Homo sapiens: one gene and its partners. The protein of the gene in region 5 purifies or fractionates together with the protein of the main gene of each other region. This does not show direct contact. Each region holds a gene or a part of one and is shown on either strand. Other genes may lie near its edges. The genes, in order: SNRPA, SNRPD1, SNW1, SNRNP70, CDC5L, ILF2 and PRPF8.

Region 1 (4,121 bases), on a different chromosome or scaffold from region 5:
GGTTAAACCCCTTCTCTACTAAATATACAAAAAATTAGCCGGGTGTGCTGGTGGGCGCCTGTAGTCCCAGCTACTCGGGAGGCTGAGGCAGGAGAATGGCGTGAACCCAGGAGGCAAGGCAGAGCTTGCAGTGAGCAGAGATGGTGCCACTGCACTCCAGCCTGGGCGACAGAGGAAGACTCCGTCTCAAAAATAAATAAATAAATAAAATAAGATTTAAAAACAAAAAACCAGGGTTCTATGTCACCAATGTGTCCCCAGCACTGCCCGATAATGGTTGGGCACCACACTCTAAAAACATATGCAGGCCGGGTGTGGTGGCTCACACCTGTAATCCCAGCACTTTGGGAGGCCGAGGTGGGCGGATCACCTAAGGTCAGGAGTTCGAGAAAAGCCTGGCCAACATGGTGAAACCCCGTCTCTACTAAAAATATAAAAATTAGCCAGGCGTGGTGGCGGGTGCCTGTAATTCCAGCTACTCGGGAGGCTGAGGCAGGAGAATCGCTTGAACCTGGGAGGCAGAGGTTGTAGTGAGCCAAGATCGTGCCACTGCACTCCAGCCTGGGTGACAGAGTGAAACTCTGCCTCAAAAAAAAAAAAAAAAAAAAAAAAAAAAAACATATGCAAAATTTACACTCCTGATTTTTTTTTTTTGAGACAGTCTCTATCACCCAGGCTGGAGTACAGTGGTGCGGTCTCAGCTCACTGCGACCTCTGCTTCCCAGGGTTCAAGTGATTCTCCTGCTCAGCCTCCCGAGTAGCTGGGACTGTAGGTGCGCACCGCCACATCCAGCTGATTTTTGTATTTTCAGTAGAGACGGGGTTTCACCATCTTGGCCAGACTGGTCTTGAACTCCTGACCTCAAATGATCTGCCCACCTCAGCCTCCCAAAGTGCTGAGATTACAGGCGTGAGCCAGTGCCCGGCTGCTGGTTTTGCTTTCTTCAACAGCAACTTCACTGGTAACCTCAAACTGAATCCCAACAAGCTCCTTCGGTTCTCCCGATAATTTTCTTGAAGTGATAAGAGCTAACATTTATCCAGCCCTTTACTAGCTGCCAGTTACCATAAAAAAGAAATACTGCAAGGTTTAGCTAATTTAATCTCCCCCAACATCCATGCAAAAAAGGTATTATGATTTTGCTCAGTTTTTAGATCTGGAAAATGAGGTTCAATAAAGGTGATAATTTACTTGAGAATGTGAGAGAGTCTTTCCGATTTCAATAATTGAGTTCTTTTTTTTTTTCCTTTTTTCAGATAGGTTCTTGCTCAGCCCAGGCAGCAGTGCAGTGGTGCAATCATAGCTCACTGCAGCCTCAACCTCTCTAGCTCAAGCGATCCTCCCACTTCAGCCTCCCAAGTAGCTGGGACCACAGACGCACCCCACCCACGCCCAGCCTTTTTTTTTTTTTTTTTTTTTTTTGTAGAGAAAAGGTCTGGCTTTGTCGCCTAGGCTGATCTTGAACTCCTGTGTTTCAGTGATCCTCCTGCCTCAGCCTCCCAAAGTGTTGGGCTTACAGGCCTGAACCACCACGCCCGGCCAAAAATTGGGTTCCTAAGCAGAATTCTATACGGGTGGCCTCAACCACTTTACTTGCTATGTGACCCTGGGCAAGTCACATCACCCCTGTCTCAGTTTCTTTTTCTTTTCTTTCTTTTTTTTTTGAGACGGAGTTTCGCTCTTGTTGCCCAGGCTGTAGTTCAATGGCGCAATCTCGGCTCACTGCAACCTCCGTCTCCTGGGTTCAAGCAATTCTCCTGCCTCAGCCTCCCGAGTAGCTGGGATTATAGGCATGCGCCACCATGCCCGGCTAATTTTGTATTTTCAGTAGAGAAAGGGTTTCTCCATGTCGGTCAGGCTGGTCTCGAACTCCCGACCTCAGGTGATCCGCCCGCCTCGGCCTCCCAAAGTGCTGGGATTGATTACAGGGGTGAGCCACCGCGCCCGGCCCCAGTTTCTTAGTTGACGAATGGGAATAACAATAGCCTTCTTCCTACAAGATTGTTGTGAGAATTAAATGTTATCAAGATTTATATGAAAGCACACAGACCAGCCCATGATACAGAGCGTTAGCCACCATTATGGTACATGTTCATTGTGGGCTGATCACTGAAAAAGCCGGTGACCAAGAAAGCCCCAGTCCTTGCCCTCACGGAGTTCAAAGGCCACTGGGAGGAGAGAGAGCCCCACGACAGCTCAGAGGAATCAGGGCTTGATGGGAGATGGTCTCAGCGTACGGCAAGTCAGCGGCAGCCACGTGAAGGGACAAGGCAAGGCTTCCTGGAGGAAGGGTCCTGTGACCTCAAACCTTGTAAGATGAGCAGCAGTGACCACGTTAAAGGGCAGAGTGTAAGATGAACTAATGGAGTGTTGAAGACAGGAAGTAGTTTGTGTAAAGGCCAAGGAGTTAACTCGAAGTTTGGCTGGACAAACACTTAGAAAGAGAGGCGGGTGCAGGGGACGGAAGAGGGGCCAGCCCGTGCGGGACAGTCTGGACTCCGGACTATCCCGAGAACTCACCATCCTTCTTGATCTTCTCATTGAGGTTGTTGATATAAATAGTGTGGTTAGGGCGGGTCTCGGGAACTGCCATGGAGTGAAGTGTTGAGGTAAGTCTTAAAGGAGGAAAAACGTGACTTTAGCCCTGGGTTTCTCCAAATCCTTTGTCCCAACGTCGGCTGCTCAAGGATCTTCCTCCGAAAAGGAAGTCAGGTAAGGCGGGAGTAGGGGCAAGGACGGAGGCAAAGCGCGACAACAAAGCGTGCGTAGGACCCGCTTCTCCAGCCCGCGTGCGGAGAGAACTCTCGAGAGATTTACTACGACTTCCAGGATGCTCTACGCGACCCGGTGGGCGGAGCACCCTAAATGGCGATTCCCATTGGCCCAAGCATCCGAAGGGCCGTCCCGGAGAAAAAACCCGGATGTGGGAGCCAGTATAGAAAAAAGGGACAGGTCCTAGGCAGCCTGGCCTCGAGCAGCAAGTTTCCTCAGACGGGCCCAGGAAGGCCCGGACGCCAAGCGTACCGCTCGCCTGCCGCCGATGGTCGTTTGCACCGGAGGTTACCTTCCGACAGGGCCGTAGTTCTCTCAACCGGCGCCTGCTACTTCCCTGAGACCAAACCACAAAGCTTTCTCTCCTGGCCCCGCCTCTGCCTTTCTGCCAGCCAATCGCCGCGCGGAAACGCAGTAGCTTGACCAATCAGAGCAAGTCTCGTTTCTGGGCTCAGCTGTTGCCAATCAAAACGATATTTGGGTTCCCGCCTAGGTAGAAAAACCCCGCCCCACTCCCTGAAAGCCCACCTCCTTCCGTGGCGCCCGGGTCTACGGACCAATCAGTGAAGGTCACGAGTCTGTACGCGTCTCGCGCTGCGGTGTCTTCCGGAGGCAATCCTTTTTGGAGTCCCGCCTCTTACCCCCGCCAGAGCTGCGTTTTCTGTCACGTGATCGCAAAATGGGCGGGAACTGTTGCGTGTAATACCACGTGATATGGGAAAGGCAGTGTGCGGGGGCCGCCATTTTCCGGGAGTGGGAGGTGCACTTTACTTCCTGACTCCTTTCCTTTTTCCAGTGGTTATCGCGGCGCCCACCGGCCTCTGATCTCTGAGTCTTCTCCAACCCACAGACGTTTTTTGTTGCTCTGGTTCCAGGACCTTCTCCACAACTAGGCCATTTTCCCTGCCAGGTGTCCTTTTTGACCTCTTGACCTCTGACTCAAAGGTCAGCTCAAAGGTTCCGAACTCGGGCCTGGGATGTGAGGGGGTACTGAACCTAAGTTCTCCGAATCTTTAGCCCTGGGTCCCTAAGTCGCATCCTTAAGGCACCTCACTCTAGATCTGAGCCTTCATATCCCAAACTCACTCATGAGTTTCCACATCCAGCCCCAAAGAATGAGTTAACTCCTACTAACTCTCCACCTAAGACTCCCGAGGTAACCCAACCGGTACCACAGATCCGGTTCCGGATTTAAGGACCCCACCCTGTTAACCGTCAGGTGCCTTATGACTTGAGTCAGCCTCGCAATTCCTGCTCCCGTGGTTTCAAATATTAGCCCTGGTCCTTTCACACCCACTGCTCAGTCCCCAGATTCTGGAACTCAGCTCTTAAACCTTTAAAATCTCCA
Region 2 (3,500 bases), on a different chromosome or scaffold from region 5:
CAAAAAATTAGCTGGGCATGGTGGCGGGCACCTGTAGTCCCAGCTACTCGGGAGGCTGAGGCAGGAGAATGGGGTGAACCTGGGAAGCAGAGCTCTCAGTGAGCCGAGATCACGCCACTGCACTCCAGCCTGGGCAACAGAGCGAGACTCCGTCTCAAAAAAAAAAAAAGAAATAAAGAATTACAGTCGGTAAAAAGATTACAAGCTTATTATAATGCCTATAAAGTAAAAATCTCCCTTCCTAACCCCCTGCACTGTGGGTATGTAGGAATATTATTCCAGATCACTTTATATGCATTCAGAAGGATATATACAGATTTCTTTTGACATAAATTGGGTCATATTTTATTCACGTCTATAACTTGTAGTCCTCGTTTAGCAGTTTATATTGGACATATTTCCATTTCAACATACAAAACATTCTAAGAACTGAGGCTGGGCGTGATGGCTCATGCCTATTTATAATCCCAGCACTTTGGGAGGCCGAGGAGGGCGGATCATCTGAGGTCAGGAATTCAAGACCAGCCTGGCCAACATGGTGAAACTCCATCTCTACAAAAACACAAAAATTAGCTGGGCAGGATGGCGTACGCCTGTAATCCTAGCTACTCAGAAGGCTGAGGCAGGAGAATCGCTTAAACCTGGGAGGCAGAGATTGCAGTCAGCCAAGATCGCACCACTGCACTCCAACCTGGGGACAGAGCAAGACTCCATCTCAAAAAAAATTAAAAAAAAATAAAAATAAATTAGCGAGGCAAGGTGGCGCACGCCTGTAATCCCAGCTACTTGGAAGGCTGGGGCATGAGAATCGCTTGAACCCGGGAGGCAGCATTTGCAGTGAGGTGAGATTGTTCCACTGTACCCCAGCCTGAGTGACAGGGCAAGACTCCATCTCACAAAAAGCCAAAATAACAAAATAACATTCTAAGAACTGGAAAGTATTCCACTATATGGAAATGTCAAAATTTATTACCGCCTGTTGACGGACATTACTTTGGTTCAATTTTTTCCCATTACAAACCCAATTATGCAAACCCTCACCAACACAAGTTGCTATAAGTCTTTCAAATTTTTGTCAATTTGATGGGGAAAAAATTTGCTTTTCCTTAATTACCTGTGAGATTGAATATCTTATCTTTTTTTTTTGACACAGAGTCTCGCTCTGTCACCCAGGCTGGAGTGTAGTGGCACAATCTCGGCTCACTGCAACCTCCGCCTCCTAGGTTCACGCCATTCTCCTGCCTCAGCCTCCCGAGTAGCTGGGATTACAGGCGCTCGCCACCACACCTGGCTAATTTTTTGTATTTTTTTTTTAGTAGAGACGGGGTTTCACCATGTTAACCACGATGGCCTTGATCTTCTGACCTCGTGATCCACCCGCCTCGGCCTCCCAAAGTGCTGGGATTACAGGCATGAGCCACCGCGCCCTGCCTGAATATCTTTTCATTAACATGGGAAAACTATTTCTTCCGTGAATTACCTGTTCACATTATTGACATTCTCAATTAGGTTGAGTTTTTCTTTTATTTTCTACTGGTTTGCCAGTCATTCAAGTTTGTTGTTTATGGTTTCTTTAGTCACACAAACTTTTTTCACTTTTATGTTTTGAATTTGTTCACCCTCCTGGGATACATAATTTACCTAAGAAAGGGTTTTTTCTATGCCAAGATTGTAAAAAAATAGTGTCTTATTTTCTTCTACTTTTAGAGTTCTAATCTACTTGGAATTGATCTTTTTTATGCAGTGTAAGGCACAAATCTGTCTTTATTACTTTCCCCAACTGAATAGCCAGTTGCCTTGATAATATATAATGAACAATCTATCCACTTCTCACTTCATCTAAATTTCCGTTCTCCCCTTTTTATAAAATTTTGCAGAGGATGAAAAGTTAAAGGGTTTACAAATATTGTCAATTGCCAGTGCAGTGGCTCATGCCTGTAATTTCACCACTTTGAGAGGCCAAGGTGGGATGATCACTTGAGGCCAGGAGTTCGAGACCTGCCTGGTCAACAAAGCAAGATCCTGTCTCTACAAAAATAAAAATAAAAAAAAAATTAGTTGGCCGGGTGCGGTAGCTCATGCCTGTAACCCCAGCACTTTGGGAGGCCAAGGTGGGCGGGTCACAATGTCAGGAGTTGGAGACCAGCTTGGCCAATATGGTGAAATCCCATCTCTACTAAAAATACAAAAAATTAGCCAGGTGTGGTGGTGCAGGTCTGTAATCCCAGCTACTCAGGAGGCTGAGGCAGCAGAATCGCTTGAACCTGGGAGGCAGAGGTTGCAGTGAGCCAAGATCATGCCATTGCACTGCAGCCTGGGTGACAGAGCAAGACTCCATCTCGAAAAAAATACAAATAAAAAAATTAGCTGGGCCTGTTGGCTCATGCCTGTAGTCTCAGCTCCTCGGAGTCTGAGGTGGGAGGATCGCTAGAGCCCAGGACTTTGAGGCTGCAATGAGCCATGACTGTGTCACTGCCCTGGAGCCTGTGTGGCAGAGCAAGACTCCGTCTTTTTTTAAAATTCTATTTTTTTTTGAGACGGAGTCTCGCTCTGTCACCCAGGCTGGAGTGCAGTGGCATGATCTTGGCTCAATGCAACCTCCACCTCTTGGGTTCAAGCAATTCTCCTGCCTCAGCCTCCCAAGTAGCTGGGACTACAGGCGCCTGCCACCACACCTGGCTGATTTTTGTATTTTTAGTAGAGACAGGGTTTCACCCGTTGGGCTGGTCTCGAACTTCTGACCTCAGGTGATCTGCCCACCTTGGCCTCCCAAAGTGCTGGGATTACAGGCGTAAGCCACCAGGCCTGGCCCTTTTTTTTAAAGACAGTCTTCGCCAGGTGTGGTGGCTCATCCCTGTAATCCCAGCACTTTGGGAGGGCGAGGCAGGCGGATCACCTGAGGTCAGAAGTTCGAGACCAGCCTGGCCAACATGGCGAAACCCCGTCTCTGCTAAAAATACAAAAAAATTAGCCAGACTTGGTGGCACTTGACTGTAATCCCAGCTACTGGGGAGGCTGAGGCAGGAGAATTGCTTGAGCCTGGGAGGCAGAGGTTGCAGTGAGCCAAGACTGCACCACTAAACTCCAGCCTGGACAATAGAGTGAGACTTTGTCAAAAAAACAAACGAAAAAAAATTGATCACACCATCTCAAAGTAAGTTGTAGGCATTACGACACTTCAGCATGCATTTTCTAATGACATTCTCCTATATAACCATAATCTCACAATCACATCTAAGAAAATGAACCCCACACTATCATACAATACACAGTTCATATAAAAACTTTTAGTCTATAATATATACTTTGAATTAACAGATCCTATCATCACACTAAATGGTACACATAAGATAACCTATTATCCTCCCGCACTAGACTATTCTTGAGGGTAGGGATCGTAAGCTCTATATCTAATCCTAGACTGTAATAGGCACTGAATAATGTTGGCTGAAATGTTTTAATGAATAAAGGGAAACCAACCTTAAAATGCCTTTTTTTAA
Region 3 (3,500 bases), on a different chromosome or scaffold from region 5:
AGATAAGAGAGATGAAAGTGGTTTTCATATTTGGGCTCCTCCTCCTCCTCCTCCCCTCCGATAATACCACATAACCCTGAAGAGACAACTTTCCTTCAGGGAAAACTCCAGTAGCACTTCCTTTGCTGATTTCTTTCTCTTCACCTGTTTTCTTACCTTTAATTTGAGAATGTTAATATATATCTGATATATAGATTAAATATATTTTTGCGGGTATAAGACAAAATTTGGTTGATTTGAAGGCAATGAGGGAGAAGGAACCATCTGGAATAGCTCTTTCTATCTCTAGCTTGTTGCCAAATAACAAGCTTCCGGTCGGGCGCAGTGGCTCACACCTGTAATCCCAGCACTTTGGGAGGCCAAGGCGGGCAGATCACCTGAGGCCAGGAGTTCGAGACCAGCCTGACCAACATGGAGCAACCCTGTCTCTACTAAAAATACAAAATTAGCCAGGTGTGGTGGCGCATGCCTGTAATCCCAGCTACTCCGGAGGCTGAGGCGGGAGAATTGCTTGAACCTGGGAGGCAGAGGTTGTGGTGAGCCAAGATCGCACCATTGCACTCCAGCCTGGGCAACAACAGCAAAACTCCATCTCAAAAAAAATAAAAAATAAAAATAAAAAGAACAAGCTTCCTTGGCAGCACCTATTCTAATTACTCAGGATCCTTTACATTAATTAATTAATTTTTATTTTTTTTATTTTTGGGATGGAATCTCGCTCCGTTTCCCAGGCTGGAGTGCAGTGGTGCGATCTTGGCTCACTGCAGCCTTCGCCTCCTGGGTTCAAGCGATTCTCCTGCCTCAGCCTCCCAAGTAGCCAGGATTACAGGCACGTGCCACCACATCCAGCTAATTTTTTGTATTTTTAGTACAGACAGGGTTTCACCATGTTTGCTAGGCTGGTCTTGAACTCCTGACTTCAGGTGATCCACCTGCCTCGGCCTCCTAAAGTGCTGGGATTACAGGTGTGAGCCACCGCGCCTGCCCCACACTCTTTATTAGAGTTTATAAGAGGAACACCCAACTAGATCATATCTTGTCCTATGTATTCCAAAAAACCCACATGTAGGTCTTTTTGTTGCTTTTTTGTCAGCTTTCCTCTGGTCCTTATGAATGCTGGTGTGTGAAGGCCAGTCATATTGCAATTATTAAGGGATTTTTGTTGCTTTTGTTCTCTCTGATAGTGTTATTTATGGGAGGCAGAGGAAGATGAAAGATTATCAAGGAGTCTTACCTGGGGCAAAAAAGTAGTGATTGGCATCATCTAATAGAGCAGTTGAGTGTCTCTGTTGAGGCATTATAAATATTGTTTGGTCTGTCAGTACATTGCACAATGAGGGTGACAGGCATCATCTTACATAGAATGTAAATCTCATCCATGCATTTCAGCATTACGATACTTGGTTGCTATTAGATTTTTAGATTCTTACTTGGCTATCAGTGGTTTCATATATCCTGGTGAAACAGAACAACTTATTTGAAAATCAAGTTGAAATGGCTAGCTAATCTGGAAATGCTATGGATGCTGCTTGAGGGGAGTGAATGTTCTGTGGAAGAAGGCATTTTGTTCTAGTTTTCAAAATAAAAGCTATGATTTTCTGGCAAGCTTAATGACCACATAATGCTACAGCTACAGTTCTGAAGTACTTATTATAGTTGAAAAACTCTAGCAAATCCAAGCATGTGTCAGATTGATGGCTTGGGTACGGGAAGCACTTATCTTAGGAATGCTTTAACTCTTTCTCATTTACAAGAAAATGTCTCTCAGCTTTATTCTCTTGGTTTTCAAAAACTTCAAACATCTCTTTAGCAAATAAGCATATTGTACTTAGGAACTCATATATCTTAGATCTAACGGAGTATTACTTAAAGAGGTCTTGTAAAAGTGAATATTTTCTTTTTTTTCCATCAAACCCCCTCTAAATGATTAATTTTAATTTGTGTTTTCTATTATTTCTTAATAGTACTCATTTGGCTGTTTTGAGCTAAAAGAAAGGTATTTCATAGTAGTAGAAAATACAAAGCTTTTCGGAGTCTCAAAAGATCTGGGTTCAGGTGCTGCATATAATACCTATGAGATCTCAGGAACACCGCTTAATTTTTCTAAGCCTGAATGTTTCCATTTAAAATGATGTTAAAGAGTTACAAGGATTAAATGAGATAATACATGTGTGAATCATGTTTAAAGTGTACTAAGCAAATACTACTGAATTTTTTTTAACTACTTAAAAATTATACTTGATCCTCATGTTTATTTGATAAACCTTTTTAAAATACTACATTTCATCAGCAAACTTTATTTAGCTTGTTCTACTTTAGCAGTCTCAGTTCTCTCTCCTAAATAATTATGTATAATCACTAGTAGAAATGTAGTAAACTCATTTCTGGATCCTTCCTATTGTATTCATTTGCTTCTCACATAACAATGAATAAATAATATGTTAATAAAATCTGATTCCAAGAAAAAATCTTTTATATTTCTGCCCCAAGTATAGCTTTACCTGTTCCTCACTAAAATATGTATTTATATGCTAAAATATATACACATATATTTTGCCTTGTCCTAGCCATTTTACTTAGTTTCGTCCTGCATATATGAAATCCACATTTTCTTGCTGTAGCATGTAAGTCCCTTTGTGATCTGGTGTTTTTTACTCATGTAACTTGTGCCTCAAGCTCTGCTGTCCTTATTAAGCTGTTAGCCCCACTGAATTCTCATTTCCTAAAATATACCAAGCTCATTCTTGCAGCAGGGCCTTTGCATTGGCTATTTGATCCATCTAGAAAATGCTTTGTGTGTGTGTGTGTGTGGTGTGTGTGTGTGTGTGTGTGTGTGTGTGTGTGTGTGTGTCTTCCCATGACTGCTTTCTAATCATTCAGGCTTTAGCTCACATGTTACTTCTTCACAAAGGCTGTCCCCAACCACCCTATCAAAAGTAGCCCCTTTTCCCAGTCTTTTTCTTTTATATTACCTTCATGGTACTTATCACAAGCCAAAGAATGTGTTTTTTATATCTTTGCCTACTAGAATGTAAACTCCACAAGAGGCAGGGAACTCTGCTGTATCTCTAGCATCTAGCATACTAAGGACTCAACAATTACTTGTTGAATGAATGAATATATCTTGAATGTCAAATGATGATTAACTATTTTATTTAACTACTTCTAATGTGTAGGATTTTGGAGATGGAGGTGCTTTTCCAGAGATCCATGTGGCCCAGTATCCACTGGATATGGGACGAAAGAAAAAAATGTCGAATGCGCTGGCCATTCAGGTGGATTCTGAAGGAAAAATTAAATATGATGCAATTGCTCGACAAGGACAGTCAAAAGACAAGGTAATCCTCTCATGTTTTCCCTGAATGATAAATATTTTAGGAAACATTTTAAATTTTGTGGACACGATAAATCTCTTGCTGTTTGAATTATGTTAAAAGTAGCAGTGGCTGGGCATGGTGGCTCGTACCTATATTCCCAGCTACTTGGGAGGCAGAGGTAGG
Region 4 (4,029 bases), on a different chromosome or scaffold from region 5:
AGTCATTTTAATTTGCAATAATTTCTGTAGTTATTAAACAGGCTATTGAATCCATCCACAAAACTTAAGATACAATACTTAAGAACAGGGCTCTAAATAACAAGTGCCAGCTCTCTGATCTCATGGCCAACAACCTGAGATTCCTGCCATCTGGTCTCAGTTCAGGACCTTTGCACTTACTGTTAAACACCGCCCCCCCGGCCCCACCCCAGATCTCGCTTCTATCTGTCCTTTATTCAAATGTTACCTCTTCAGAGGGGCCTTCCATTATCACCCTTTCTAAAACAGCCTCGCTCTCACTTCCCATCCCTTTATTCTGCTCCATCGTTCTTCATTATGCTGGCCACTATCTCAAATTATCTTTTATTATTTATTTATTTATTTACTTTTGAGACGGAGTCGCTCTGTCGCCCAGGCTGGAGTGCAATGGCACGACCTCGGCTCACTGCAACCTCCGCCTCCCGAGTTCAAGCGATTCTCCCGCCTCAGCCTCCAGAGTAACCGGGCTTACAGGCGCGCACGGCCACGCCCGGCTAATTTTTGTATTTTTAGTAGAGACGGGCTTTCACCATGTTGGTCAGGTTGGTCTCACACTCCTGACCTCAGGTGATCTGCCCGCCTCAGCCTCCCAAAAGTTCTGGGATTACAGGCGTGATCCACCGCGCCTGGCCTCAAATTATCTTTATTCAGTTAAATGCTTTTATTGTCTCTCCCAGTACAATGTAAGCCCTAGCAGCAGAAGACTTTGCTTTAATCACGTGCTGTACCCCCAAAGCCCAGACAGTGCCTAGCACACACGAGATGCTCGATGAATAGTTATTGATTGAATAGATTAGACATCAACGCAATCAGGCTGTTCACCTAGGGACTCTTTGCTAGGCGGCGGAGAGGTACGTTACAGTTCTCTACGCAAAACGCATGCGCGAAAGATCCGGGAAGTGTGATCGGAAAGGGGCGGAGCATCAGGGAGAGTCTCGCGGACATAGGCGGTTCGGCGCGGAAAGCGGGAGGTGGAGGGGCGGCTTGGGGCAAGCGCGCGCGCGCAGTGCAGAAGCCAGCCCCCCGCGGCTGAGGTACTCAAGGTGCCCAAAGGCGGGGTAGTGACCTCGCGCGTGCGCTGTGCCCGCGGCAGCGCCGGGTCCTAGTGTGTGGGTTGTTGTTGGCACCGCACGGCGCGTGCGCAGTGAGGACGGCGGAGGGATTTGCGGCCGGGACCCACCCCCTGCTCCAGTCGCTATCGGAGGCCGCGCGGGTGGCTGAGCAGCGGCCTGGTGCGCTCGCTTAGCGGGCGACGGAATCAGACGGACGTGGACGCCCCCGGAGTGGAAGCCGAAGCAGGAGTTGTTGTTGCTGAGGGGCTGCCGCAGCCGCCGCGAGCCTCCGGACAGACGCCAGAGCGAGGAGGGCGCTACGCGGTGAGTGAGTGTGACTGAGTGGCCCGACGGGGTGCGGGGCCGCTACCCAGAAGCCCCAGCGGTGGGCCCGGTCCTCTTCCCCGCGGCCAGGCCCCTTTCCCGCGTCCCCGCCACAGGTCCCTTCTGCATCCCTTTCCCGGACCCCGAAATCTCTGGGCACCCACGCCCGCTTCCCACAGCGCCCTCGTGGTTCCCTACCCACAGGCCCTTGCGGTGTGTGGCCTTTTTTCTTTTTCGTTTGTCTATGTTGTCCTGGACCCTTACCCATAATTCCTTTCGCTTTTTGCGGGGTCCAGGTCTGTTACCCACAAGCACTTGGTTTTGGGGCTTCGCTCCTTATGTTTCTCTTTCTTTGCTTGGAAACTTCCGATCCCCAGGACCCTGCAAACTGCATCTCGTAATTTGCCCTCCACGGCACGGGACGAGCAGCCACAGCTGCTCTGGGCCTCCCTCCTCGGGTCCTTGATTTCCCCAGAAATTCCCAGGGAACCTCTCCGCCCCACAGCTCGTGTCAGAGGACTCTGAGACTTCACTCTTCAGGAACCCTTTTCCAGCCGTTATTTTTGTTTTCTTTACCGGCCTTTCACCTCCACCCCCACCAAGACGTACCCTTTTCTCCGCAACACAGGACTGTTCTCTGCCCTTACAGAGCCTGTTTTAATTCCGAGACTTTTCTCCTGTCTTTCTTATTTTGAGAGTCAAGGAGTAACAGGGGCTTTCTCTGTGCAGACCCGATCTAACCTAAGGCTGTCCTGCTTCTGCTCTCAGACTTGGCAAGATGACCCAGTTCCTGCCGCCCAACCTTCTGGCCCTCTTTGCCCCCCGTGACCCTATTCCATACCTGCCACCCCTGGAGAAACTGCCACATGAAAAACACCACAATCAACCTTATTGTGGCATTGCGCCGTACATTCGAGAGTTTGAGGTGAGTTCACTGAGCAGGCCAGGAATGGTTTGGGTTCTGGGGAGCAACGGGTTGGATTTGCGAGTCCAGCTTCTGGCCATTTTGCCAGCTGCGTGATTTAAGCGAGGGGCTTAACCTTTGTGATCCTCAGTTTCTCTGTTTTAAATGGGGTTGGAGCCGGGTGTCGGGTGTGGTCGAGTGCGTCTGTAGTCTCAGCTACTCAGGAGGCTGAGGTGGGAGGATTGCTTGAGCCCAGGAGTCGGAGGCTGGAGTGCTTTGTGATTGTGCCACTATACTCCGGCCTGGGTGACAGAGCAGGACTTCGTCTCTCAAAAAAAAAATTTTTTTTTTAAGTGGGGTTGTGGCCCGGTACGGTGGCTCACGCCTGTAATCCCAGTACTTTGGGAGACCGAGGCAGGCGGATCACTTGAGGTGAGGAGTTGAAGACCAGCCTGGCCAACATGGTGAAACCACGTCTCTGCTAAAAATAACAAAAATTAGCCGGACATGGTGCCTGTAATTCCAGCTACTTGGGAGGCTGAGGCACGGGAATCACTTGAACCCAGGAGGCGGAGGTTGCAATGAGCCGAGATCGCGCCACTGCACTCCATCCTGAGCAACAGAACAAGACTGTCTCAAAAAAAAAAAAAAAAAAAAAGTGGGGTTGATAGTACACCTTTTGTAGAATTTTTGTGAAAATTCAGTGAGTAGTGGTTGAGGATTCATGCCTAACCCACACCATTTATCAGCTCTGACTTTGGGCAAATGTTGTATCCTCTTAATGCATTGGTTTCTTTATCTTTAGCAAGGGGATAGTGGTAGCACCCTTATAATGTTGGTGGAGAATTAAATGGCAAACTGTATGTCAGGGGGCTTGGCACCAAGCAGTCAGCACATGTCAGCCTTTGTTACTCTGTTTACTACTTTTATTGTTAATAAGATGATGTTCATAAAGGCTTAGCACCCAGTATTGAGTATTGGAGGGCTTAAAACTGCAGATGGGGATCTTAGCTCTGCACCTTTGGGATAAATAGGAATGAATGACTTAGGCTCCTGGACCTCTGTGTTTTTATTTGTGAAATGGGATGACAAGGGTCATCTCTTAGGTGCATCAGAGCACACCTGAGAAAAGCTGGCACACAGTCGGAAGTTACAAGAAGAACGTTCTAGCATTGGGTAGGTAAGGGCAGCTGGAGGCGAGGGAGTTGCAGAGCAGAATTTCGTAGATAACAGAAAGGTATGTCTTCAGTGGGATTTGCCACCCTTGGTGAACCCGCACTTGAGAGATATTACTGGCCAATTAACTTAATGGGCACAGGCGGGTGGTAGGTGCCCTTTGATGATGCAGGTCATGTGCCAGTTACCATTTATTTATTTATGAGACAGTTTTGCTCTGTTGCCCAGGCTGGAGTGCAGTGGCGTGATTTTAGCCAACTGCAGCCTCCGGTTCAAGCAGTTCTCCTGCCTCAGCCTCTCAAGTAGCTGGGATTACAGGCATGCACCACCACGCCTGGCTAATTTTGTATTTTTAGTAGAGATGGGGTTTCACCATGTAGGCCAGGCTGGTTTCGAACCCCTAACCTCAGGTGATCCACCCCCCTTGGCCTCCCAGAGTGCTGGGATTACAGGTGTGAGCCACCATGCCTGGGAGCCAGGTACTTTTTTTTTTTTTTTTTTTTTGACTTGGAGTCTCGCTCTGTTGCCTAGGCT
Region 5 (3,500 bases):
AATGTGGGATAACACATTAAAATTTCATGCCATTTCTGAAGGAGTAAATGTAACTCAAAGTAGCTGAGAACTAAACACAAAAAGTATCATCCTCTGTTCCCCACTGAAAAGCACATTTACATGGGTCCCCTCTAAAATATTGTTTCCACTGATGTCATTCTCACTCCAATCCCCTGAGATTCAAGGTCCCTAAAATCATCCAGCAATGGACTGCAGCTACTGAAAGGGGTCATAAAATATCAGTTCTAGTTTAGGATTCACCACTTACCCACCATGAGACCTGAGAAAGTTGAGACCATGAGACCTCAATTCATCTGAGCTTGTTGAGTATTCCTTACTAGAAATATCTGGGCCCAGAGTATCTTGGATTTCTGATTTTTTCAGATTCTGGAACATCTGCATTATACTAACTCTAATCCAAAAAGCTTCAATGAGCATTTCTTTTGAGCTTCATGTCGGCACTCAAAAAGTTTTGAATTTTGGAGCATTTCAGGTGTTGGATTTTTGGATTAGCAATGTTCAACCTGTAATACCGATCCTATTTATATCACTGTGCTGTTACGTGCAAATGAGAAAGTAATTACGTATAAGATATATTAGTACAAAGTGTTACTAATATTATTTTGACACACTCTATCTAAATTTCCAACTCCAGTTTAGATAGAGGTCTTACTATGTTCCCCGGACTGGATTCAAACTCCTGGGCCCAAAGAATCCTCCCACCTCAGCCTCTCGAGCAGCTGAGACTACAGGCTCGTACATCGCACCACCCAGGAACCAAGATGTATTTGTTTTTAAGACTAACCAATAACATCTTTTCTTTGCTAGATTGAAGCAATGTCTAAAAGACTACCTATGTGTATTTTAGAGAAGCATAATGAATTTGACAGAATGTATTTAAATTTCCATATATATATTTTTAAGAATGCTCATCAAAATATTGTGAGTATGTTAATTATGTGAGGATACATTATTAATGACATAAGTTATTTACTTTAGAAGTTTTTTCAATATTAAAAAGGACTAGGTAGAGATCTTGGGACATTTAATGGCTATTCTTCATTCTTCCAGCCTACTGACACATTCAGCCAAACTCACGCTTCTTTCAGTACAGTTACCCACCTGCTTTCGAGCATCCACATCAGCAGCATCTTCAATGTAAGTATCATCTATTTCACGTTCTTCCAGCTCCTTCTCGGCATTTTCTGGTAGAACAATTTCAAAATCATTCTTAGGGGCAGGAAGGCCCAACAACCCTAAACGGAGATGTTCTCGGGATTCTCTTTCCTGTAGAAAAGAAGTGGTCCTTCTCAATTCATGCATATTAAACATTCCACCAGTATTTTATGAGTCTCTTAAAAATTGATAGCACAACAGGGTGACTCTAGTCAAAATAACTGTACATTTTAAAATAACTAAGAATAATTGGATGGTTTCAAACACAAAGGTTAAATGCTTGAGGGGATGAATACCCCATTTTCCACGATATGATTATTACACATGCATGCCTGTATCAAGATATCTCATGTACCCCATAAATATACACACCTACTATGTATCCACAAAAATTAAAAATTACAGAAAGAGAAAAAAAGTCTCAAAAAAAATCAGCCTAATATTAATTCTAGAAAAATAATCCTGACTTCAGAGCTAAGACAAGTCTTATGTTTATTTTCTATCCCCCCTTCTTCCCAACATTAAGACCAACCAAAAACTTTCACTTGTGATCACTGAAGATACTCTGGGATATTCCAACAGGAGGTCTGAGGCCAGGGCAGAAAAAAAGACCACTTTGAGGGAACACATTTCTGACACCGAAAGTTAACAGCAAATGAAAAGAACAGGTTCAAAAGTTAGTTTGTCCTTGGACTAATAAAATCCACTCTAAAAGATACTTGAATTTGTATGTATGTGTTTATTTTTAATGGAAATACTAAATCCCATGCAGAAGAAAGAAAGTAGAGTCCTGGTTCCCAAAAAAGCCTCCTGGTACCCAGAGTTTTCCCATCCATCCTCAGTGCTTACATGTACCAGGTGTGAGGAACAGATGAGTTGCTATATCTAAAACATCCTCCATGCTTACTCATATTGTAGTCTCCATCTGAGACAGCCCCCACCCTCCTTCAGAACATAGCTCCTCTAATAAGGCTTTCCTGTTACCCAACAAATGTGACTATTCCCTTCTTTAACTACCCTAAGCACACTGGTTTTACTCAAAGGGCTTATTCTGTTCTGATATTGCAATTATTTTTGGACTTAGTTTAGTACTGTCAATCTCCCCAGAATATAAATTTCCTTAGGACAAAGGACATCTTTATTCAACTTTAGATCCCCTCAAATGTCCAAATGCATGCTCTGCATGCATGAGGTTCTTAATCTATTTAATTCTTATGTATCCATTCAGAGTTGGCTTTAGTTGATATCAATTTGAACTTTAAAAAACATATATAAATCAACCAAATATATACATGAGGTTAGAATTAATTTTAAACTGAAGACAAGCCAGTATCATTAGAAGTTTTTTTTTTAATTTCACAATGATTTCTGTGGCATTAGATAATAAGGCCCAATAGCAAAGTAATAAACGCAGTAACACGGGCAGAAGCAAAACTTAACTTTTTACAGTTAGCTTTCTACCTCAGCTTGCTAAAGAAAACTTCAGTGAAATCAACAACGAACATCAATATTCACAAACCTAGTAAGCATAAAGAAAGGTGGGTTTTGAGCCCAAAATATTCCCTTTCATCAAGTCTTACAAATAATTCTTTTTCTGGCATCCACAGGTGTATAGATTCTTAAGGTATATGTGATATGCACTAACAGGAGAAATTTTAATTTGGCATCCATGAGATATTAAAAAAAAATTTAAGAGTATTAAAAGGGAATTGACATTTACCATCTGCTTCACGTAAGAGGGATCACTATAGTCTGCCATTCCATCCTCGGGATTAATGTTTAACTTGTCTCGAAGAGGAGTTCTACCCGGAGTAGAGTTAATAACTGGTTTGGGAGTTGTTCCACTCCGGGGAGTCAGCCCTTCAGCTCCATTAGAAGGAGTCCTAGAAAGACAGGAATCCCAATTAACAGAAGTGCCACTTACATTTGGATTGTGCTTTCAAATGTTTTTCACATAAATTATTTCACAGGAAATATAGAAAAAAAAAAGAATAAAGATTTCAAAATTCTGTCCAGCTGGTTTTGTTAGGATCTCTAGGTTAAAATCAATGTTTGGTCTAGCTAGCATGGTATTTTTATTTTACTGACTTACAATAATCACTACATTTGATATTTTCTTGCCTTCCTAAACTACGTCCACTAAACATTATTTCAACCTTTTCTTGGCACATTAGGGCGACTAAGAACATGCAGTGGGCAGGGAGGTGGGCCACCACACTCAATGACCCCAGATGACTCTTTGAGTTTTGTGTATATTTGTCTCCTCCCTCCCTATCAAGCTGTTGGTTCTCACATCACTATCACTGTCATTATTACAAATGTAC
Region 6 (3,353 bases), on a different chromosome or scaffold from region 5:
CCTCCGCCTCCCGGGTTCGAGCAATTCTCCTGCCTCAGCCTCCTGAGTAGCTGGGATTACAGGTAACCGCCATCATGCCCCACTAATTTTTTATTTTAGTAGAGACGGGGTTTCATCATGTTGGCCAGGATGGTCTCCAACTCCTGACCTCAGGTGATCTGCCTGCCTCAGCCTCCCAAAGTGCTGGGATTACAGGCGTGAGCCACCGCACCCGACCAACTCTGCAATTCTTTAAGCCACCCTGTGTTTCTCATATCAGCAAATCACTTGTCTAAAAATCACTAGAAACATGCAAGATCTGTTTTCTTCAAAAGCCTATCCCCCTCCATAAATATTTTCTCAGTCCTTTTTAAGTCCTCCAAATGCTTTCTTGGTCACCCCATCTGAAAATTCCACTAGCAAGCTGATAAACTATTTCCAAATTACAGAGGGAGAGAGCAAAGTTCAGAATAAACCTAAGTTCTTCAATTCCCAGGAAGCTGCATGTGGAATAGCAACAAGCTAAGTAAACTAAACAGCAACAATACCATGTTTTGAATATCCCCTAAATTTTCCAGCAATGGAAAAAAAAGAACTAACAATGGAGTTCTGGATCCAGTTTTCGAAGATTGGGTGGCACTGTTGTAATGAGAATCTTCACTGTAGCATCAGAAGAACTGATTTCAAAGCCAGTTTCGTTGGTCAGCATGGTTAAAACTGAAAAAACAGAATAAACAAAAACTATAACTCACATTTCCATTAGATGATCAAAGTTAAATCCAGGGTGGGGGGGAACAGGTGGATTTTTTAAAACAGCACAAAGTCCAGAATGAGAATTTAGAATACAGAGCTTTAGAAGGGAGATCAAACAGATCTCCCTTGAACACCTTGAACACCTGAAGCCCCTGCCAAAAACTCCCACAACATAAAACTCTGCATTTACTCTTCCATCTGGTCTGATCTGATTTTGTTGAAAGTGTACTTACAATTACAAGACCTGGTTCCTATGGCTACTAAATACAGAATCAGCAACAAATGCAAACCTTCAGAAGGATCCTGTGCTCTTAGGCTTTCCACGACTTTGTTCCCCAGGGCAGCAACAGCTTCCACTAATTGACAGAAAATGACATAATGTTATAATAATTTATTTGCCTAGACTTTCTATGTATCTCTAAGCTACTTTGCACTCTCATTTCTGTCCCATATCCAAGGCTGAAGCAAGGGTAAGTAATAGAATATATACTTTTATAAGAGAAAGCCAAGGCCTGGGCAGAAAAATTGGAAGACTCAGGGAACAGGACCCCTCCTGTACTCATATCCTCTTTCTACAGCAGGGTTTTTCAGGTCAGTGGCAGTTAATAACATTTTGGGCTAGACAAATCTTTGGGGTGATGGGGATGTAGGATGTTTAACAGCATCCACGGCCTCTATCCTTTTTCTTTTTTTGAGAAAGGGTCTCACTCTTGTCACCCAGGCTGCAGTGCAGTGGCACAATCACAGCTCACTGCAGCCTCAGCCTCCCGGGCTCAAGCAATCCTCTCACCTCAGGCTGCTGCTTTTTTTTTCTTTTTTTCTTATTTTTGAGACAGGGCCTCACTCTGTCACCCAAGCTGAAGTGCACTGGCACGATCTCTGCTAACTCCAACCTCTGCCTCCCAGGTTCAAGCAACTCTCCTGCCTCAGCCTCCCAAGTAGTGGGGATTACAGACGCCCACCACCACGCCTGGCTAATTTTTATATTTTTGGTAGAGACTGGGTTTTGCCACGTTGGCCAGGCTGGTCTTGAACTCCAGGCCTTGGCCTCCCTAAGTGTTGGGATTACAGGCGTGAGCCACTGCACCCGGCCCCACCTCAGGCTTCTGAGTAGCTGGGACCAAAGCATGCACCACCATGCCCAGCTAATTTTTTTCTTTTTGTAGGTACAGGATCTCTCTATGTTATACAGGCTGGTCAAACTCCTGGGGTCAAGTGATCCTCTTGCCTCAGCCTCCCAAAGTGCTGGGAATACAGCCACCACACCTGGCTTCTACCCTTTTTTGATGCCAGTAGCACCCCCTTGTTTTAACAATCAAAAGTACCGCCAGATACTGCCAGATATCCCCTGGGTGGCAAAATTACCTCCAGTTGAGAAACATGGCCGTACAGTAACCTGCTATACATTCTTTCAGACACACACACTCCAGCGTTTGTCCCTTATCACTCATTAAAAAACATTTGTCAGGCAGGGTGCAGTGGCTCACGCCTGTAATCCCAACACTTTGGGAGGCCAAGGCGGGCGGATCACCTGAGGTCAGGAGTTTGAGACCAGACTAGCTAACATGGTGAAACCCCGTCTCTACTAAAAATAGAAAAATTAGCCTGGCATGGTGGCACTTGCCTGTAATCCCAGCTACTTGGGAGGCCAAGGCAGGAAAACAGCTAGAACCCAGGAGGTGGAGGTTGCAGTGAACCGAGATCACGCCATTACACTCCAGCCAGGGCAACAGAGTGAGATCCGTCTCAAAAACAAAAACTAGAAACATTTGTCTTACAAACATCCTTTCTCACAAGAAATTTGAGCTTTCAAGATCCGTAAGGGCTGGGCACAGTGGCTCACGCCTGTAATCCCAGCACTTTGGGAGGCTGAGGTGGGCAGATTGCTTGAGCTCAGGAGTTTGAGACCAGCCCGAGCAACACGGTGAAACCCTGTATCTACAAAAAATACAAAAATTAGCTGGGTGTGGTAGCACACATCTGTAGTCCCAGCTACTCGGGAGGCTAAGGCGGGAAGATCACTTGCTGTAGTGGAGGTCAAGGCTGCAGTGAGCTACAATGGTACCACTGCACTCCAGCCTGGCCAACGGAGGGAGAATTTGTCTCAAAACAAAAAAAGATACCTAAACCCCTAATCCAAGTGCTATGTTCTGTTCCCATGACCAGAAACAGGCACACTCACACGTTGGCAGAATCTTGAGTATCACCACCAGGTCAGCCACATTGTGTCCTGTAGTCATTGTCCCCTTTTTATAGGATCCCACCTGTCGAACTTCTTCAATTTGCTGTTGGAAAAAGGATTTCGGGGAAAAACAATTTAGAAGAAAAAAAGGTGCCTAGGTCCTCCCAGAACTGTTACAACACAGCTACCTGTTACCCAAATTAAGAAGTAGCAGAGGTGAAATCACCCCCAAAACCACCACATGAAAGCCTGATACATCACAGCTAGCATAACAATGATACAAGTCTTGTCCCCAAGATCAGTACTACAAAGAAATTCCACTGTACTTTCTCATTTTAGGCTTGGCTTTGGATAATAGACAACTGAAAATTAAAAGTCAAGAGCCAAGGCAATTTCCACACTACCAAAGCTGCCCTTTCCTAAAACTAAATCATCAAAA
Region 7 (3,500 bases), on a different chromosome or scaffold from region 5:
GGCCCAGCAACGCATATTCTTGAAACATCCACTTTGACCAAATCTCTTCTCTACCTCACAACTCTTGCTGAATTAACTCTTCTTTAGCTTCCTAGACGTTCAACATCTGGCTGGGCTGTATCTGTCCAGCCAGTTTCTCTTCCTTTACATTTATAGCATGTTTCATCTTACATTCAGTCCAGGATCTTAGTAGCCCAAACCCCTGATGCTCATCTCCAAATCTGTGTTTTGCTTGTATTTTTCTTTCTAGAATGAACTCCCCTCTTTGCTCTGTTAATCACAGTCCCTCCTTAAGACACGTTTTTTTGTGCAGCTTTTTTCTGATCCTAGTAGCCTTAATTTCTTTTGTTCCTGAACTCTGTAAAACAGTGTATAGTTTAGCACATACTCATGTGTCAGCTTGTGGTATTGTCTTGTTGAAAGGGGCTGTCAGCCTGGTCATTGGACACGGCCATTTGATACTCTTTGTACCTTCTAAGTGCCTAACATTTAACATCAGTGTTCAATAGAAACGTAGTTGGATTATTTCAAAACTAGGATATTCTGTTCTAGTTGATCTGGGAGGGTAGAGACTAAATTTCCATTTTCTTCTCTCTTGCTTTTAAGTTGGCTAAGTGGAAGACAGCTGAGGAGGTGGCCGCCCTGATCCGATCTCTGCCTGTGGAGGAGCAGCCCAAGCAGATCATTGTCACCAGGAAGGGCATGCTGGACCCACTGGAGGTAAGAGGGTGGGGTGGGGTAGGAGAAAAGAGACCTTGAGACCTTCAGGCTGTTTCTCATCTTGGACTTGATCTTGTCTTAGGTGCACTTACTGGACTTCCCCAATATTGTCATCAAAGGATCGGAGCTCCAACTCCCTTTCCAGGCGTGTCTCAAGGTGGAAAAATTCGGGGATCTCATCCTTAAAGCCACTGAGCCCCAGATGGTTCTCTTCAACCTCTATGACGACTGGCTCAAGACTATTTCATCTTACACGGTATGAACCTCGGGAAGAGAAGATCGCTGGAGGAGGAGCGGGTTTAGGGTTAGGAGAAGATCCTGTGTCAGGTTTTTGCCATTTTCACATTTTTAGCCTATAGATTGGGTGGGAACTCTGTTGACTTTCATGAGAGTTTAAGACCTTAAAGTTAAAAATCAACTCTTGGGGCCGGGCGTGGTGGCTCACGCCCGTAATCCCAGCACTTTGGGAGGCTGAGTTGGGTGAATCACCTGAGGTCAGGAGTTTGAGATCAGGCTGGCCAACATGACGAGACCCCATCTCTACTAAAAATACAACAAAATTAGCCGAGTGTGCTGGGATGCACCTGTAGTCCCAGCTACTCGGGAGGCTGAGGCACCAGAATCACTGGAACCCAGGAGGCAGAGGTTGCAGTGAGCCGAGATGGCACCATTGCACTCCAGCCTGGGCGACAGAGTAAGACTGTCTAAAAAAAAAAAAAAAAAGGCCGGGCGCAGTGGCTCACGCCTGTAATCCCAGCACTTTGGGAGGCCGAGGCGGCGGATCACGAGGTCAGGAGATTGAGACCATCCTGGCTAACACAGTGAAACCCCATCTCTACTAAAAATACAAAAAATTAGCCGGGCGTGGTGGCAGGTGCCTGTCATCCCAGCTATTCGGGAGGCTGAGGCAGGAGAATGGTATGAACCTGGGAGGCGGAGCTTGCAGTGAGCCGAGATCATGCCACTGCACTCCAGCCTGGGCGACAGAGCAAGACTCTGTCTCAAAAGAAAAAAAAAAAATTCTTGGGTTTCATGAAAGGTTAGGATTAAAGTGGGAGAGCCTCAAGCAGCTGACCTACCCCACTCTTCCAAATCTTTTCCCAGGCCTTCTCCCGTCTCATCCTGATTCTGCGTGCCCTACATGTGAACAACGATCGGGCAAAAGTGATCCTGAAGCCAGACAAGACTACTATTACAGAACCACACCACATCTGGCCCACTCTGACTGACGAAGAATGGATCAAGGTCGAGGTGCAGCTCAAGGATCTGATCTTGGCTGACTACGGCAAGAAAAACAAGTGAGCAGTGCTGGTGGGGACACAGACAGGAGGTCTATATACGGTTTTCTGGGGTTTTTTGGAAGCACTTAGGCTTAGAAGTTTCTCAAGAAGGCCAGGCGCGGTGGCTCATGCCTGTAATCCCAGCACTTTGGGAGGCCAAGGTGGGTAGATCATTTGAGGTCAGGAGTTTGAAACCATCCTGGCCAACGTGGTGAAACTCCGTCTCTACTAAAAATACAAAAGTTAGCCGGGTGCGATGGCGCCTACCTGTAATCCCAGCTACTCGGGAGGCTGAGGCAGGAGAATTGCTTGAACCTGGGGGCAGAGGTTGCAGTGAGCCGAGATCATGCCACTGCACTCCAGCCTGGGCGACAAGAGTGAGACTGTCTCCAAAAAAAAAAAAAAAAAAGACGTTTCTCAAGAAATTATCTTGTCTTAGCCAGGCTTGAGTGCTCATGCTAGTAATACCAGCACTTTGGGAGGCCAAGGTGGGAGGATTGCATGAGCCAGGAGTTGAAACCAGCCTGATCAACAAGAGACTGACGCCATCTCTACCAAAAAAAAAAAATTTAAAACAGGTGTGGTGGTACACGCTTGTAGTCCCAGCTTCTTGGAGGCTGAGGCAGGAGGCTTGCTTGAGCCCGGGGGTTTGAGGCTGCAGTGAGCCATGATGATGCCACTGTACTCCAGCCTGGGTAACAGAGCGAGACTCTTGTCTTGAAAACAAGGAAAGAAATTATCTTACAGAGTCTCGAGGAAGAGAGATACAGCAGTGTCTTCGAATAGTATGGGAAGCATCCCTGTTTTAGGGCTTCAGTCTGACTCTTGGCCATTGTTTCTCACTGTTGCCATTTCAAACAGGGCATTTCTTTACTGTCCATACATGGGAAGAATTTTGAACATCCGAGACCCTAAGTATCCGAGACTGCTGCCAACACACACACACACCTTCCTCCCCTCGTCTCCCTCCCTGTCATCGTGGCAACCAAAATTATCCATAGGGTGACGGACAATACCACCTCTGATTAAGAACCAGTATTCTAGGGTTTCTGGGGTTTCCATTTCTGAGAACAGTTCCATGCCAGAGCATTGTTTTGGTCAAGGAAGCGTAGGGTTTATGGATGCTAAACAGTGGGAAGGTGCACACGCAGTGTGCTGTCCCGCTTGGATCTGACGAATCTTGGAAGTGTTAGTGCACCTCCGTTTCACACTTCCTGTAGAAGCAGCTCTTGTGGATTGTCTGGGGCGTGAGTATAGGCTGTCCTGTCCTACCAAGTTACACCCTTTCCATTGAGGCAGAAGTGACCAAGGGGAAGGGATCCTTGTAATATAACCCACACCATCCCCACAGTGTGAACGTGGCATCACTGACACAATCAGAAATTCGAGACATCATCCTGGGTATGGAGATCTCGGCACCGTCACAGCAGCGGCAGCAGATCGCTGAGATCGAGAAGCAGACCAAGGAACAATCGCAGCTGACGGCAACACAGACTCGCA

Evidence for each region.
Region 1: the proteins of CDC5L (region 5) and SNRPA purify together in Homo sapiens (affinity purification with mass spectrometry; 4 studies listed by BioGRID and IntAct, with this or other methods). This does not show direct contact.
Region 2: the proteins of CDC5L (region 5) and SNRPD1 purify together in Homo sapiens (affinity purification with mass spectrometry; 4 studies listed by BioGRID and IntAct, with this or other methods). This does not show direct contact.
Region 3: the proteins of CDC5L (region 5) and SNW1 purify together in Homo sapiens (affinity purification with mass spectrometry; 5 studies listed by BioGRID and IntAct, with this or other methods). This does not show direct contact.
Region 4: the proteins of CDC5L (region 5) and SNRNP70 purify together in Homo sapiens (affinity purification with mass spectrometry; 4 studies listed by BioGRID and IntAct, with this or other methods). This does not show direct contact.
Region 6: the proteins of CDC5L (region 5) and ILF2 purify together in Homo sapiens (affinity purification with mass spectrometry; 4 studies listed by BioGRID and IntAct, with this or other methods). This does not show direct contact.
Region 7: the proteins of CDC5L (region 5) and PRPF8 fractionate together in Homo sapiens (co-fractionation; 5 studies listed by BioGRID and IntAct, with this or other methods). This does not show direct contact.

What each region holds. Positions count from the first base shown.
Region 1 is NC_000019.10:40,749,882-40,754,002, reverse strand, and holds the start of SNRPA (U1 small nuclear ribonucleoprotein A), read right to left. Parts: upstream 2,801-4,121; 5' UTR 2,595-2,800; coding exon 2,522-2,594; intron 1-2,521. UniProt on the Homo sapiens protein: Component of the spliceosomal U1 snRNP, which is essential for recognition of the pre-mRNA 5' splice-site and the subsequent assembly of the spliceosome. U1 snRNP is the first snRNP to interact with pre-mRNA.
Region 2 is NC_000018.10:21,618,814-21,622,313, reverse strand, and holds part of SNRPD1 (small nuclear ribonucleoprotein Sm D1), read right to left. Parts: intron 1-3,500. UniProt on the Homo sapiens protein: Plays a role in pre-mRNA splicing as a core component of the spliceosomal U1, U2, U4 and U5 small nuclear ribonucleoproteins (snRNPs), the building blocks of the spliceosome.
Region 3 is NC_000014.9:77,751,157-77,754,656, reverse strand, and holds part of SNW1 (SNW domain-containing protein 1), read left to right. Parts: intron 1-3,176; coding exon 3,177-3,338; intron 3,339-3,500. UniProt on the Homo sapiens protein: Involved in pre-mRNA splicing as component of the spliceosome. As a component of the minor spliceosome, involved in the splicing of U12-type introns in pre-mRNAs.
Region 4 is NC_000019.10:49,084,222-49,088,250, forward strand, and holds the start of SNRNP70 (U1 small nuclear ribonucleoprotein 70 kDa), read left to right. Parts: upstream 1-1,229; 5' UTR 1,230-1,415; intron 1,416-2,183; 5' UTR 2,184-2,193; coding exon 2,194-2,340; intron 2,341-4,029. UniProt on the Homo sapiens protein: Component of the spliceosomal U1 snRNP, which is essential for recognition of the pre-mRNA 5' splice-site and the subsequent assembly of the spliceosome. SNRNP70 binds to the loop I region of U1-snRNA.
Region 5 is NC_000006.12:44,422,206-44,425,705, reverse strand, and holds part of CDC5L (cell division cycle 5-like protein), read right to left. Parts: intron 3,060-3,500; coding exon 2,897-3,059; intron 1,288-2,896; coding exon 1,123-1,287; intron 1-1,122.
Region 6 is NC_000001.11:153,664,641-153,667,993, forward strand, and holds part of ILF2 (interleukin enhancer-binding factor 2), read right to left. Parts: intron 3,018-3,353; coding exon 2,915-3,017; intron 1,089-2,914; coding exon 1,023-1,088; intron 697-1,022; coding exon 580-696; intron 1-579. UniProt on the Homo sapiens protein: Chromatin-interacting protein that forms a stable heterodimer with interleukin enhancer-binding factor 3/ILF3 and plays a role in several biological processes including transcription, innate immunity or cell growth.
Region 7 is NC_000017.11:1,653,868-1,657,367, reverse strand, and holds part of PRPF8 (pre-mRNA-processing-splicing factor 8), read left to right. Parts: intron 1-606; coding exon 607-720; intron 721-802; coding exon 803-976; intron 977-1,824; coding exon 1,825-2,018; intron 2,019-3,351; coding exon 3,352-3,500. UniProt on the Homo sapiens protein: Plays a role in pre-mRNA splicing as core component of precatalytic, catalytic and postcatalytic spliceosomal complexes, both of the predominant U2-type spliceosome and the minor U12-type spliceosome.